Linked DNA regions of Homo sapiens. The protein of the gene in region 2 interacts with the protein of the main gene of each other region in a pairwise test. Each region holds a gene or a part of one and is shown on either strand. Other genes may lie near its edges.

Region 1 (3,398 bases), on a different chromosome or scaffold from region 2:
ACTCATTTTTGGGTTGTGGTTTGATCACTCCCACCATCCTCTCAAGCCCCGGCTGTACAGGAGGTGGAATGTCATTTAAGACATAATCATTTCTCCTGCCTCCTAGAAATGGTGGGCATCCTGTGGTGGAAATCACAGTTTGCCCGAGCCAAGCAGAGAGCTGAGCTGACAGCCTGTGCTCTTCCGCCTGCATGGTGCTGGAGAGGAGCGCAGAGCCCACTCATTTGCAAGGACAGGGCTGTGTCTCGCAGCCATCAACTTAGGGTTCTACCCTTCAAGGGTCCAGGCAGGGACAGGCTTGAGCAGCTGTGGAATGCAAAGTGCTGACCCTCTTGCTCCAGGGTGCAGGTGTTGGAGTGAGCTCTCTGCTGCATCAGGAACCCCTGCAGTGAGTGTTGTCCACTCACTGGGATGCCCCTCCATCCTCTGGACAAAGGCAATTGTGAGGCTCTGCGCACTTGGAGGCCACCCTAACACACTCTTTCCTCTGCTTCTCCCGCTGCTGCAGGTTATGTGTTCTGTATGTTACATCGCCTCCCCGAGCAGCACGACTGCACATTCGACCACATGGGCCGTGGCCGGGAGGAAGCCATCATGAAAATGGTGAAGCTGGACCGGAAAGTGGGGCGCTCCTGCCAGCGCATCGGGGAGGGGTGCTCCTGAAGGCCAGGCATGGCCACCACGTGACGCTGTTCTTAGTTCACTAATGTTAGCCTTATTTAGGACAAAGTCAGCCAGACACCTTGTACTGGGCACGCGTCAGACTGCAGCCAGTCCGTTTCCTTTCTTTAGCCAGCCATCCTGGTACTGTAGTTTAGGGGTTGATGGTGGTTGAAATTGATTTCTGGCTGGTTACTAAGGTGCCTGCTAGCCATTGTATAAAATTAAAACATGAAGAATATTTTTTTTTTGAGCATGGCTAGTGGATTTAAAACAACACATACCTGTCACTGCTGGAGTCAAACTTATAAAAAGCCTTAAGTGGAAAGTGTTCCAGACGGAGACTCTGAGTTAATAGAGGAGTAGAAGCTGGTGTTAAAGTTCCCACGACGCACATGGCTTTGCCAGAAACTCTGTTTAATGATCGGCCTTTCACCTCTTCACTTATCCTTAGTCCCAGTAGCCAGGATACCTGATGGCCACGTGTGCCTTGGCCACGGGAGGCTGCTGAGATTGGCCACGTGGCTGGGCTGGGTGGTGGCCTCACTCTCCCACAGAGCTGGAAATGGGGGGTGGGGGACAGATTCTTACGGAAATTTTTTTACCTGACTTGCTATGAAAAAACTCATCACACAAGAAGAGAAACAGTAACCTCACTTTGAAAATTAGCTCCACTCAAGACTAGTCCACGAACGAGACCCGCCTTTTCTACACAGGATCCAAGGTCACGAGAAGCAGCCAGAGTGCCCCGCCTCCGCCGGCTCTGGTCTGCCATTCGCCAGTGCAGGGATCTGGCACGGACCAGATGTGGCGAATGGCAGCACAGCGCGGTGGCTGGGTCTGCACACTGGCCTCTGCAGCCAGATTTCTATATTGGGAGTTTTTTAAAAAGACATTTCATAGCCAACAAGAATCAGTAGAAGTGCTGGGAGCAGCAGCTGGGGAAGCTGCCGCCCACGGGCTCTGCCCCTTCCAGCTGGAGCCGCCCGTGCCTCCAGGGGCCAAGAGGATGATGTCGTGGCCTCCATTCTCGTTTCTATGCAGCCCCATAGTCCAAGGACACCCAGTCCACATCTACCATATAGCAAGTTTAGTAAGGGAAGGCAGCATACGTCCCAGGGACAGTGGGTTTGGATCTGTCTAGAACAGCGGTTTGTGGCTGTGGCCCAGCTCCGAGAGTGATATTTGCTCTGGTAGGTGAGGGCCTGAGGGTACATTTCTCCACCTGTGCCCCCTCATGTTCACAGAGGATTTCAGCAGCTGCAACTGCGCACGCCAGGTGGGGAAGGGTGGGGGTGGGCCTGGTTGCCCCATGTTAGGAAATCACTACCAGTCAGGTGGGGCTGGGGCTGGGTGGACAGGATCAGGATTCCCTTGAAAGCCCAGGCAGGGTGAGCAGTCCCAGTGGTCCTAGTGCCGCATCAGATCCAGGTGGGTGAGGGCAGGAGGCCCCTGCGGAGGCAGCGTGGATCTGCCCACACATAGGCTACTGGAATAGTTTAACCCAGCAACTTTCCTTTTTATAAAACAACAAATGGTTCAACTCTGTCTGCAAATTAACAGCTGAACACCTGCAACTGCAAATGTTTTTTGATCCGACGTACTGAAATAGGAAGTCATGCTCTTCCCACCCTCCACCCACCAGAGTGGAACCCGCTGCAAAATCCCCAGCCTTAATTCTTGCTTCAGGACCCAGACCGGTGTCTTGCTCTAGGGCAACCCAGGGCAGAGGGGCCAGGTCTGCCCAGCGTTTACCACTGCTGTCAAGCCACAGCCCTTGGCCACCATACGGGCCATCCTCAGTGAGGCAGCCCCCCATAGGCTTCCGCCAAGCTCTGGTCCCGAAGAGGCTGTGCGAGCCCTTCCCGGCCCTCCCCAGGGCCCCCCGCCCCCTCCTCTGCCTGCTGCGTGGAGGCAGCCATGGGAAGGAGCCCAGGGGAGCTGGCCTGGGGGAGCGAAGCCCATGTTCGCTTCCTGACTTAGAGCTGGGGGGGGTGGGGGGTGGGGCTTGTTCCCCTGCAGTATCTGTTCTGTGAAGTTTGTTAAATGTAAGGAAAGCTTAAATTCTTGTATCTTTAAAAGAGAAAATCTTATTTAACCCTTTTGTGTTCTAGATTTACTTACACACATAGCCTAGAGCTCAGTTTTAGTTTTAACATTGTGAAAATATTAAAAGAATCTTGTAACTTTATTCTTTTTTCTCCTGCTGAAAAAAAAAATTAAACCAATCGTATGAAAGTTTGGTTTTCTTGTTTCACCCCTTCTCCTAAGTGCCCCCTGGGTTGCTGGGAAAACTGACCCATCTCCCTGGCCAGGGCTGGAAAGAGATGGGGGCCTGTGTGCAGAGACCGTCTGCAGTACTTGGAGGCACTCGTCCAGTTAGTGTCCAGGCTAAACAGCCGCTTCCTTGCTTTCTGTTGGGAGCCTCTGCCCTGGGAAGCTGCGGGACTGGCCTTGGGGTAAAGGTGGGTCTGCAGGGCCAAGCCTGTGCCAGCAGCCAGGAGGTTACACACTGGGGGGGATCAGAAAACGAGCCCCAGCCCTGAGGGCCCCAGGCGTGGGTGGGGTGGGTGCTGGGTCCTGAGGGAAGGCAGCATGCCCTAGACCCGAACCCCACCCTAGGAAGGGCCTCCAGGATGGATGACGAAGGCTCCCAAAGGCTGGCTTGGAGGAGGTGTGTGCTGTGGCACTCTTTGGTGTATAGGATGAACTTAACTACATTTTTAAATGTTCAAAAA
Region 2 (4,089 bases):
GTATTTTTAGTAGAGATGCGGTTTCACCGTGGTCTGGATCTCCTGACCTCATGATCCGCCCACCTCAGCCTCCCAAAGTGCTGGGATTACAGGCGTGAGCCACCGCCCCCAGCAATTATTTTTTTCTTTTTTTTTGAGACCGAGTCTTGCTCTGTAGCCCAGGCTGGAGTGCAGTGGCATGATCTAGGCTCACTGCAAGCTCTGCCTCCCAGGTACACACCATTCTCCTGCCTCAGCCTCCCAAGTAGCTGGGACTATAGGCACCCACCACCATGCCCGGCTAATTTTTATGTATTTTTAGTAGAGACGGGGTTTCACCGTGTTAGCCAGGATGGTCTCGATCTCCTGACCTCATGATCCGCCCTCCTCAGCCTCCCAAAGTGCTGGGATTACAGGCATGAGCCACCGCACCCTGCCATGTTAAATGTTTTGTCCCAGTGTGCTGTCACATAGTCTTGTGTGACTTTGTCTTCTTATTCCACAGAGAGAACCATCTAGACAGTGTCCTAACGCAGTACAGTCTGTGGCCTCTGATGAGCATAGATAACTGCCCCAGCCAAGAGGCTCTGAAAGGCTGCAACATTAGGGGCAGAGTTTGACCTGGTTAGTCAAAGAACAGGTTGGCCCAGCACCTAGCTTCCCTTCCTCCCTCCCTCCTTCCCTGCCCGACCTCAGCCGGCTGTACCTTTCTCTCCAGTCTCCTTGGCATGTCCCACCACCTCCTTCACCACTTCCTCCACGGCATGAACTGAACAGAGGAGACAAGTCCAGGGTGAGGGCTCAGAGCAGGCCGGCTGCCCCCGAGTCCAGGGTGAGGGTTCAGAGCAGAGCCGCTGCCCTCCCAGTCCAGGGTGAGGGCTCAGAGCAGGCCCACTGCCCTCCCAGTCCAGGGTGAGGGCTCAGGGCTGGCTTATCCTCACAACAGACCTATACATCCCTGGGCATCCTAGATGGGGCTCTGGGGTGCCACCCCCAGCCAGGACAGACTGACTCATGAGAAGGACCTTCCCCCACAGCTGGCTTCATTTGGAGACGCCAGGGCCTTGGCTGCTGGGAGACGAGCTCAATGAGCCCCATGAGGGCATGGGTCCCTGAAGCCCCTTGGCCCTGCCCGGCCTGGAATGGCAATGAGCAGGCAGTCTTGCCAGCTGAGACATGAAGCCCAGGCTGGGCCTGTGTGCCAGGTCACACCCCTCTCAGGATGTGCTAGCGCCTGCCTCAGGTTGGTTTCCAAAGCCTCATCCACTAAGACCAGGTCTCTCAAAGCAATTCCTCCAACAAAACGGAATTCTCTGCCTACTTCAGAGTTTTTTAAAGTGTGGGTGGTAGCGTGCTAGAACTGAAGGATTTCAGAGTCAGAAGAAATGGTTCTTATTCTAACTCTACCTTCCACCTCTTGGTTCCCTCATCTTTAGAATGGGAATCTGTTGGGATGATGAGACCCAACACCAGGTCACGGGGGCGGCAAGTCCAGCGGAGTCAAAGGAATGACAAAGAGACAGTTCGAGAGAGAAAATGGGAGCAGGGCGCTATCGCGAGTGTGGAGGCTGCGAAGGCCCCGAGTTCTGGGAGCCCACGCTATTTATTGGTGATCTAACAAAGAAACAGGTGGTGAGGATGTGGAGGTTGAAAGGAAACAGTGTATCAAGTGAATGAGAAACATATGGCTACTTGAGAGAATGGCAGTGCTAGAAGCAAGGAGCCAGCAAGTCTAGCAAGCCCTGCCTCAGCTTTTCTCCCAACGCTGAGCTTTTCTCCCAACAGGAATCATAAAAAACTCAGAGGCTAGTGAAAGGTTAAAGCAGGTGGTCCACACCAGCTGCAGAGTCAAAAACAAAATACGCATCTGCTGCCATTTAGAAAGAGGACACAAACTCAGGCAAGACTTTTTCACACGATGACCCATGAGTGGGGCCTGGCTGGGCCTCCCCACACATACCTGCTGACCTCTGAATACAACATACACTTCGGGACCAGGTGCAGTGGTTCACGCCTGTAATCCCAGCACTTTGGGAGGCCAAGAGGAATGGATCACTTGAGGTCAGGAGTTTGAGACCAGCCTGGCCAAAATGGCGAAACCCCGTCTCTGCTAAAAATACAAAAATTAGTCGGGCGTGGTGGTGGGTGCCTGTAATCCCAGCTACTCAGGAGGCTGAGGCATGAGAATCACTTTGAACCCAGGAGGCAAAGGTTACAGTGAGCCGAGATCGCACCACTACACTCCAGCCTGGGTGCCAGAGCAAGACTCCATTTCAAATACAAATACAAATAAAAATAAACATGCTTTAGGGGACTTGGATGAAATTGAAAATGCCCTTTTTGACTTTGAACAGACTTGGTGACTTGTTAAGAAATCTTTGAAGCTTTAAAGTTATGGTAAAAATAAAAATCCATCTTCCTTTTCCTGCATAGGTTATTCAGAATAGGCTGTTTTGACAAGAAAGGCTCCCCAGATTTCCAGAGGGAAGGGTCCAAGCTGCCAGTGTTCACCCAGCACCAGGACTCATGCCCTGCCCCCAGGAGACCTCCCCAGGTCTGCACCCCTCAACTCCGTGCTGACTTGGTAGAGCAGGAGACCAGGGTTCCTGAGGGGCCAAGGCCTCCCCGCAGGTCCTCGCCTGCCTACGTAGATCCGCCTCCCACAGACCCAGTCTGCCCCAGATCCCCCCAGCCCAGGTAGAAAGGAGCCCTGGGTCCTCACTGGCTCCCTCGGTGGCCTTCTCGGTGCGGTGGGCCAGGCCCTCGGCAGCCAGCTTCCCCAGGCCTCCCAGCATCGTGTGGCAGCAGACAGTGGCGAACTAGGATGCTGAGGACTGGCCCAACATGCTTTTATAGCTGCCTCTGGTGCCTATCTAGGCTCTGGGGCAATAAGCCCTCACCCCAGCCCAGTAGGAGGCTGGACAGGTGAGTCAGTGAGGGCGGCAGCAGGAAGGGGCTGGGCGGAGCCACCCTGGAACTAGGGTGGCAGCATCCCCTGACAGCATGAGGCTTCTGTAACCCTGTCCTAGGGACCCCGTGAAGGATAGGGGCAGGGAGCAGGGCTGGACAGTAGAGATCTGGACATGCTTCTTCCTTGAGGCAGAGGGCCTGAGTGCCAGCCCCCCTGAGACCAAAGCTTCCCAAGCCTGGGTACTGATATGTACCTGGAGACAAGGCCTAGGATTCCAAGCCTGCTGCTCAAGGTCCCCAGTGTGGCCTAGTAAGAGGTTTGGGGGTTCTATGGGCCTGGAGACCTGGGCAGTCCTTTGAGTCATGAACACAAGTGGAATGAGGGTGACTGCCCTCCCCATTCCTGGAGACCCTGGCTCTGCAGAGCAGTTTGCGGCCTCCATGGGACAGGGTGGGGCGTTCAGGGTGGTGCCTTGCCCGAGTCAGAGGGGGGCACAGCACTGGGCAGAAGCGTAGTCACCTGGTGTCGCTCAGCTGATGCTCACTCACCCAAGAGGCTCTGTGAGGTCAGCAGTGCCCTCCTATCCCCTGGCAGTCCTGGAGGAGTAGACAGAGGCCTCCACCACCACTCAGGGAGATGCTTCTGGCCTTAGCTAGAATCCCCTAGGAAGCAGCTTCCCTGGCTCCTGGTGCATCGCATGAGGAGTGGCAGGGCTGCTCCCTAGTTACTCATGATGGACAGACATGCCTCAAGCCACCTGCCACATGCTGCTTCCCTTAGTCACCAGCCCAACCTGAGCCTCCGTTTCCTCATCTGTAAAATGGGCATAGCGTGCCTTCTTGGCTGTGTCCCTAATCATCCCTGAGGCAAAGCATGCAAGCTCCTGGTAAACACCTGTTCCCTCCACTCATCATTGAGGTGCCCTTTGGCAGTGAGCTCTGACCAACTGGTAGGGTGTGCCAAGGAGTGACTGGGACGTGAGGCTGCCTTGGAGCCAGAGGGCTGGGGAATGTGACTTCTGCTGGCCAGGAGCCAAGGAGAGGTCTTCCCATGCTCCTACTTCTGGGGTGCAGGCCTGTGGCAGGGGTCTGAGGCTCTCTCCCCAATGCAGGCTCCTGGAGCTGCTCTCCTGGATGTGTCGGGGCCTGATTAGTTTACTGGACTGTGGGCCCTCCCAGCCTGGGACTCGGGAGCTGAGA

Evidence for each region. Proteins that work in one complex are often made in the same cells at the same time.
Region 1: the proteins of FAM25G (region 2) and ZFAND3 interact in a two-hybrid assay, tested with the Homo sapiens proteins (one large-scale study listed by BioGRID).

The regions. Positions count from the first base shown.
Region 1 is NC_000006.12:38,151,727-38,155,124, forward strand, and holds the end of ZFAND3 (AN1-type zinc finger protein 3), read left to right. Parts: intron 1-508; coding exon 509-663; 3' UTR 664-2,898; downstream 2,899-3,398.
Region 2 is NC_000010.11:47,488,901-47,492,989, forward strand, and holds the start of FAM25G (protein FAM25G), read right to left. Parts: upstream 2,801-4,089; 5' UTR 2,775-2,800; coding exon 2,702-2,774; intron 749-2,701; coding exon 686-748; intron 1-685.